2 linked regions of the Homo sapiens genome follow. The protein of the gene in region 1 purifies or fractionates together with the protein of each later gene. This does not show direct contact. Each region holds a gene or a part of one and is shown on either strand. Other genes may lie near its edges.

Region 1 (3,810 bases):
GCGACCCTTCGCTTGTGGAAGCAGCACCCCCATCTCTGCCTGCATCCTCGCACAGCCGTCTCCCCCGTATCTGCCTCACTCCTGAGGATGTTTGTCACTGACTGTGGGGCCACCCAAGGAATCCAAGATGACGTCCCTTGAGACCTTCTTCCACCTAGGCTGCCATGCACAGGCTGCGGGCATTGCGGTGTGGCTTCCTTTGTGGAGGCCGTAGTCCGGCCATGCAGTCCCCTGTGACTGGCATCTCAGCCTGCCCCACACTCAAGCCCCACAGTGCTGGGTAGCAGCAAGTCTAGGTCCGGGCCAGGCATCGGCACCGGGGAAGATGCGGCCCCTGCGGGCTCTTGGGGCCCGGCTCTGCGCACCTTCTGCTGTGAATCGGTCAGGCCTCGCCACGCGCAGTTCTCTTCTGTCCACTGAGGAGGTGGCCCCCTTTGGGTGAAACTCCTTAAAGTCAAAAGTCCAGGGGATGTTTTGAACCCTGCCACTAGTGGCTCACACCTGTAAGCCCAGCACTTTGGGAGGCAGAGGTGAGAGGATCATGTGAGCCCAGGAGTTGGAGACCATCCTGGGCAACATAGTGAGACCTCGTTTCTACTAAAAATAAAGAAACTTACCCAGGTGTGGTGGTGTGTGCCTATAGTCCCAGCTATTCAGGAGGCTAAGTTGAGAGGATCGCTTGGGCCTGGGAGGCAGAGGTTGCAGTGAGCTGTGATGGCACCACTGTACTCCAGCCGGGGCAACAGAGTAAGACCCTGTCTCAAAAAACAAAACAAAATCCTGCCGCTTGTGCCCTCAGCACGAGTTTCCGGGAAATTCTGTCGCCTCCAGCAGGTCATGATTCCCCTGTGTATTTCAGGTCCGCGGGAGAGCTGTGGGGCTTGGTGAGTGTTTCGTGGCCTCTCGGGTTGGTCAGCACCCCCAGCCAGCTGGCCCAGGACCCCTCTACAGAAGTCCAGGAGAGCAGGCGTCACCAAGATGTCCAACCCCTTCCTGAAGCAAGTCTTCAACAAGGACAAGACATTCCGCCCCAAGCGCAAGTTTGAGCCAGGCACCCAGCGCTTCGAGCTGCACAAGAAGGCGCAGGCGTCGCTGAACGCCGGGCTGGACCTGCGGCTGGCCGTGCAGTTGCCCCCGGGCGAGGACCTGAACGACTGGGTGGCTGTTCACGTGGTGGACTTCTTTAACCGCGTCAACCTCATCTACGGCACCATCAGCGACGGCTGCACGGAGCAGTCCTGCCCCGTCATGTCGGGGGGCCCCAAGTATGAGTACCGCTGGCAGGATGAGCATAAGTTCCGGAAGCCCACGGCACTCTCCGCGCCCAGGTACATGGACCTGCTGATGGACTGGATCGAGGCGCAGATCAACAACGAGGACCTCTTCCCCACCAACGTTGGTGAGTCAGAGCTGGCAGGGGCTCGGGGATACAGAGCCTTCCAGAAAAGTCAGGGAGGCCGAGCACAGTGGCTCACACCCGTAATGCCAGCGCTTTGGGAGGCCGAGCCCAGGGATCGCTTGAGCCCAGGAGTTTGAGCTCAGCCTGGGCAACATAGCAAGATCCCATCTCTACAAAAAATTTTAAAAATTAGCCAGGCATGGTGGCACACGCCTTTGGTCGCAGCTACTCGGGAGGCTAAGGTGGGAGGATCGCTTGAGGCTAGGAGGTTGAGGCTGCAGTAAACTATGATCGTGCCACTGTACTCCAGCCTGGGTGACAGAGCAAGACCCTGTCTCAAAAAAAAAAAAAGGATTCCATTTCTGAGTATTCTCCTAAGTTGGGCTGCTCTTAGTAGCCCCCCTTCATCCTGAATCACTCCTGGTGACTCCTGTCTCCTCACCCCAAAGCAGAGAATGACAGGATCAGCATCAGGCCTGGAGTCCTTCGCAGAGGAGACAAGCACCCCTGCCAGTGCTGGGCCCAGTGTTCTCAGTGGTTTCAGAATCACTGCCATGGAGCCCCTGGGCCCACCAGGATCATCACCCCGTTGGCGGGACCCCCTGCCCAGCTCGATGTGTAATGCACTGCATGGCTCTCAGGGACACCCCATAAACGTGGGTTTGAGGATGATCATTAGGGCACGTCCCTCCAGAGTACAGCGTACCTTTCTTTTCTTTTCTTTTTCTTTTTTTTTTTGAGACAGTGTCTCACTCTGTCACCCAGGCTGGAGTGCAGTGGCACGATCTCGGCTCACTTCAACCTCTACCTCCCAGGTTCAAGCGATTCTTCTGCCTCAGCCTCCTGAGTAGCTGGGATTACAGGCATGAGCCACCACACCCGGCTAATATTTGTATTTTTTAGTAAAGATGGGGTTTCTCCATGTTGGCCAGGCTGGTCTCGAACTCCAGACCTCAAGTGATCTGCCTGCCTCGGCCTCCCAAAGTGCTGGGATTACAGGCGTCAGCCACCGCGCCCGATCTGCCAGCAATTTCTGTCTGGAAGCCCCTTGTCACATCCAGGAGCAAAGGGTTCTGGACATGGACTTGGCTGAGTCCGTGGACCCGTCCCACCCCTCTCCCTGCAGGCACTCCGTTTCCCAAGAACTTCCTGCAGACGGTGCGGAAGATCCTGTCGCGGCTGTTCCGCGTGTTCGTGCACGTCTACATCCACCACTTTGACCGCATCGCGCAGATGGGCTCCGAGGCCCACGTGAACACCTGCTACAAGCACTTCTACTATTTCGTCAAGGAGTTCGGCCTCATCGACACCAAGGAGCTGGAGCCACTGGTGCGCGGGCTTGGGGCTGAGGGCGTGCGGTTACGGTGGGGCTGGTGGCCCGTGGCAGAGGAACCCTTCCGGGGCCAGGACCCTGACTGCTTGCGGTCGGCCCAGCAGCTGGCGGCCCCGGCTGGAGTTGGGCCCCGGGGACCCTGCTGATGGGACAAGTGGTGAGGTAGCTGGGAGGGATCCTGCGTTCTCCCACGGAACAAATGCCGGCGACAGGTGCAGTTTCCTCCGCGCCGCCCCGCGTCCAGCTCACTCCGCCTTCACCGTCCTGAGCTCAGGTGTCCCAGAGCGCCGCTCAGTGTCCCTTATGAAAGGGATGCGAGCCGGCACAAGCAGACTCCACCCCGACTTTTTTTGTTTGTTTGTTTTTGTTTGTTTTGAGACGGAGTCTCACTCTGTCACCCAGGCTGGAGTGCAGTGGTGCGATCTCGGCTCACTGCAACCTCCGCCTCCCGAGTTCAAGTGATTCTCCTGCCTCAGCCTCCCAAGTAGCTGGGATTACAGGCACGCGCCACCACGTCCAGCTAATTTTTTGTGTTTTTAGGAGAGAGGGGGTTTCACCGTGTTAGCCAGGATTGTCTCGATGGATCTCCTGACCATGTGGTTTGCCCATCTCAGCCTCTCAAAGTGCTGGGATTACAGGCGGGAGCCACTGTGCCTGGCCTTTTTTTTTTTTTTTTTTTTTTTGGAGATGGAGTCTGCCTCCCTCACCCAGGCTGGAGTGCAGTGGCGCCATCTTGGCTTACTGCAACCCCCACCTTCCGGGTTCAAGCAGTTCTCCTGCCTCAGTCTCCTGAGTAGCTGGGATTACAGGCACGTGCCACCACACCCCGCTAATTTTTGTATTTTTAGTAGAGACCAGGTTTTGCCATGTTGGCCAGGCTGGTCTCAAACTCCTGAACTCAGGTGATCTCCCTGTCTCGGCCTCCCAAAGTGCTGGAATGACAGACAGGAGCCACCGCACCTGCCTAGATTCCACCCGACTTCTGTAGCCAGCCGGGTACCTCTGCATCTGCCCTAGCCTGTCTGCTTTCCACGTTACCAGGTTTTATCGGGAGACGAACCCAGGGACCAGATTCCTC
Region 2 (3,810 bases), on another chromosome or scaffold:
ATATTGGCCAGGCTGGTCTCGAACTCCTGACCTCAGGTGATCTGCCCGCCTCGGCCTCCCAAAGTGCTGGGATTATAGGCGTGAGCCACTGCGCCTGGCCAGGAATCGCTTCTTTATTTTCATTTTCATTTATTTATTTATTTATTTATTTATTTTGAGATGGAGTCTCGCTCTGTTGCTCAGTCTGGAGTGAAGTGGCGTGCTCTCCGCTCACTGCTACCTCTGCCTCCCAGGTTCAAGCGATTCTCGTGCCTCAGCCTCCCAAGTAGCTGGGACTACAGGTGCGTGCTACCACGCCCAGCTAATTTTTGTATTTAGTAGAGGCGGGGTTTCACCATGTTGGCCAGGCTGGTCTTGAACTCCTGGCCTCAAGTGATCTGCCTGCCTCAGCCTCCCAAAGTGCTGGGATTACAGGCGTGAGCCACCGCCCTCGGCTGGAATCACTTCTTTAACATGCACAGCCCCAGACCTCAGTCTCTTGGAGATTCTAACTGTGTGAATTGGGAGAGAGAAAGGGGAATCTAGATTTTTTTTTTTTTTTTTTGAGATGTGGTCTTGCTATGTTGCCTAGGCTGGAGTGCTGTAACTATTCACAGGTGCAGTTATAGCACACTACCACCTCAAACTCCTGGGCTCAAGAGATCCTCCCACCTCTGCCTCCCGAGTAGCTTGGACTGCAGGTGCACACCATCTTACCCAGCTGAAATCTGCTTTTTTTTTTTCTCAGTGCAGTGGCACAGTCATGGCTCACTGCAGCCTCGACCTCCCAGACTCAGGTGATCCTCCCAACTTCAGCCTCCTGAGTAGCAGGGACCACAGGCCTGCACCACCTTGCCCAGCTAATTTTTGTATTTTTTGTAGAGACGGAGTTTCGCCAGTTGCCCAGGATGGTCTTGAACTCTTGGGCTCAAATGATCCGCCGCCCGCAATGGGCCCAGCTGGAATCTGCATTTTTTTGTTTTTTGTTTTGAGATGAAGTCTCACTCTGTCGCCCAGGCTGGAGTGCAATGGCGCAATCTTGGCTCACTGCAACCTCCGCCTCCTGGGTTCAAGCCATTCTCCTGCCTCAGGCTCCCAAGTAGCTGGGATTACAGGCACGTGCCATCACACTTGGCTGATTTTTGTATTTTTAGTAGAGACAGGGTTTTACCATATTGGCCAGGCTGGTCTCGAACTCCTGACCTCAAGTGATCGGCCCACCTCGGCCTCCCAAAGTGCTGGGATTACAGGCATCAGCCACTGTGCCTGGCCTGGTATCTGCATTTTTATGAACAGCCCAGGAGGGTGTAATGCAGAGTCCTTGGCGTGCACTTTCAGCAACACTGCAGTAAGGACTAGAAATCGCACATCAAATGCTGGCAGAGTGCCTGGTGCTTAGTAGGTGCTTAGTGAGTGTTTGTTGAGTGAATAAATGAACAGGAATGGATGGAGAACAGGAACCCAAAGGAATGGATGAGTAACCTTATTTCCTTGGTCCTTGTCTGGAAACTGGGGCAACTGGGGCTGGGGTTCAGGTGAGTGGCCAGCCAGTCATCTGGTCTTTGCCTCCCCCTCATTTTTGCCAGGCCTCACATAGACGGTCAGCCATTGGATCATAGGAACTGCCCTGGCCTGACTCACCCAATATGGAGGAGGTGCCTGGGGATGCCCTGTGTGAACACTTTGAGGCCAACATACTTACCCAGAACCGCTGTCAAAACTGCTTCCACCCTGAGGAGGCCCATGGAGCAAGATACCAGGTGGGCCAGTTTTCCACGTGGTTGGGGTGGTTTGTGATGGGGGCATGGGTGAAGGACTGGGCCTGTGGTGTCCGCTAACTCGCAGTTGAACCCAGATGCTGGACTTCCTCCTGTCGAGAGCCTCGGTTTTCCCACATTGCAGGGAAGTGGTTGAACCATGTGAATGTTTCACAATCTTCAGTCACTTTCCTCCTGCTTATATGATACGATTGTTACCATAGCCTTATCTAATCTGTTACTTACTTTGTTATTCTTTAAATCAACATCTTTTTCCCCTTCTATTGAAACAAAACTTCACATCATCAACACAAGTAGAAAACTAGAATTACTTCCTGTTAAGAAGAAGAGGTTAAGAAGAAAGGTAGAGGCTGGGCACGGTGGCTCACGCCTGTAATCCCAGCACTTTGGGAGGCCGAGGTGGGTGGATCACCCGAGGTCGGGAGTTTGAAACCAGCCTGGCCAACATGGTGAAAATTAGCTGGGCATGGTGGTGCATGCCTGTAATCCCAGCTACTTGGGAGGCTGAGGCAGGAGAATCACTTGAACCTGGGAGGCGGAGATTGTGGTGAGCCGAGATCGCGCCATTGCACTCCAGCCTGGGCAACAGAATGAAACTGTCTCAAAAAACAAAACAAAACAAAACAAAAAAGAGAAGAAAGGTAGAAAAAGAAAAAACAAAACAGAAATGTCGTTACACCCTAACTTGAGAGTGTTTTCTTTTTCTTTTTCTTTTTTTTGAGACAGAGTCTCACTCTGTCGCCTGGGCTAGAGTGCAATGGCAATGGTGTGATCTCAGCTCACTGCAATCTCTGCCTCCTAGGTTCAAGCGATCCTCCCGCCTCAGCCTCCCAAGTATTGGGATTACAGGTGCCTGCCACCATGCCCAGCTAATTTTTGTATTTTTAGTAGAAACGGGGTTTCGCCATATTGGCCAGGCTGGTCTTAAACTCCTGACCTCAGGTGATCCACCCGCCTCAGCCTCCCAAAGTGTTGGGATTACAGGCGTGAGCCACCGCGCCTGGCCTCGAGAGTGTTTTCTATGGAAGGCTCTGAGCTTGCATCCTGCTGTCTCTTTGTCAAAAAGGGAGATTAGCAGATGTTAGAGAGATGTTAAGAATACACCAGCATCATCTAGAGATTTTCTTTCTCTCTCTCTTTTTTTTTTTTTTTTTTTTTTTTGGAGATAGGGTCTTGCTCTGTAGCACAGGCTGGAGTGCAGTGGTCCAACCTATAGTACATGGCTCACTGTAGCCTCGACCTCCCAGGCTCAAATGATCTTCCCACCTTGGCCTCCTGAGTAGCAGGGACTACAGGCACATGCCACCATGGCCAGCTAATTTTCTTGTAAAGATGGGATCTCACTATGTTGCCAGGGCTGGTCTCAAATTCCTGGGCTCAGGTGATCCTCCCACCTCAACCTCTGTAACTGCAGGGATTACAGGTGTGAGACACTGCACCTGGTCTCAAGATTTTCTTCTTCAAGTTATTGAAGGAGTGAAGAAGAATCCTTTTTTTTCTTTCTTTTTTTTTCATTTGAGACGGAGTCTCTCTCTGTCGCCAGGCTAGAGTTCAGTGGCTCAATCTCAGCTCACTGCAACCTCCGTCTCCTGGGTTCAAGCAATTCTCCTGCCTCAGCCTCCTGAGTACCTGGGATTACAGGTGCCCACCACCATGCCCAGCTAATTTTTGTATCTTTAGTAGAGACAGGGTTTCACCATGTTGGTCAGTCTGGTCTCGAACTCCTGACCTTGTGATCTGTCTGCCTCGGCTTCCCAAAGTGCTGGGATTACAGGTGTGAGCCACCGCGCCTGGCCGAGATTTTCTTCTTCAAGTTATTGAAGGAGTGAAGAAGAGTCCTTTTCTGACTTTGTGATTGATGTAGTCTGCTGCCAAGCCCCCATGCATGTAAACACAGAGCACCTGATACACACGCAATGAGAAACCTGGGACTCACGAACCTCCGAGGGCCCTTCCAACCTTGACCACCATGGCTTCGTCATTCCCATTGGGGTCTGAAGGTCCTCTTTTTTTTTTTTTTTTTTTGAGACAGAGTCTCGTTCTGTTGCCCAGG

Evidence for each region.
Region 2: the proteins of MOB3A (region 1) and TRIOBP fractionate together in Homo sapiens (co-fractionation; one large-scale study listed by BioGRID). This does not show direct contact.

What each region holds. Positions count from the first base shown.
Region 1 is NC_000019.10:2,075,729-2,079,538, reverse strand, and holds part of MOB3A (MOB kinase activator 3A), read left to right. Parts: intron 1-859; 5' UTR 860-978; coding exon 979-1,399; intron 1,400-2,525; coding exon 2,526-2,728; intron 2,729-3,810. UniProt on the Homo sapiens protein: May regulate the activity of kinases.
Region 2 is NC_000022.11:37,699,741-37,703,550, forward strand, and holds part of TRIOBP (TRIO and F-actin-binding protein), read left to right. Parts: intron 1-1,565; 5' UTR 1,566-1,625; coding exon 1,626-1,739; intron 1,740-3,810.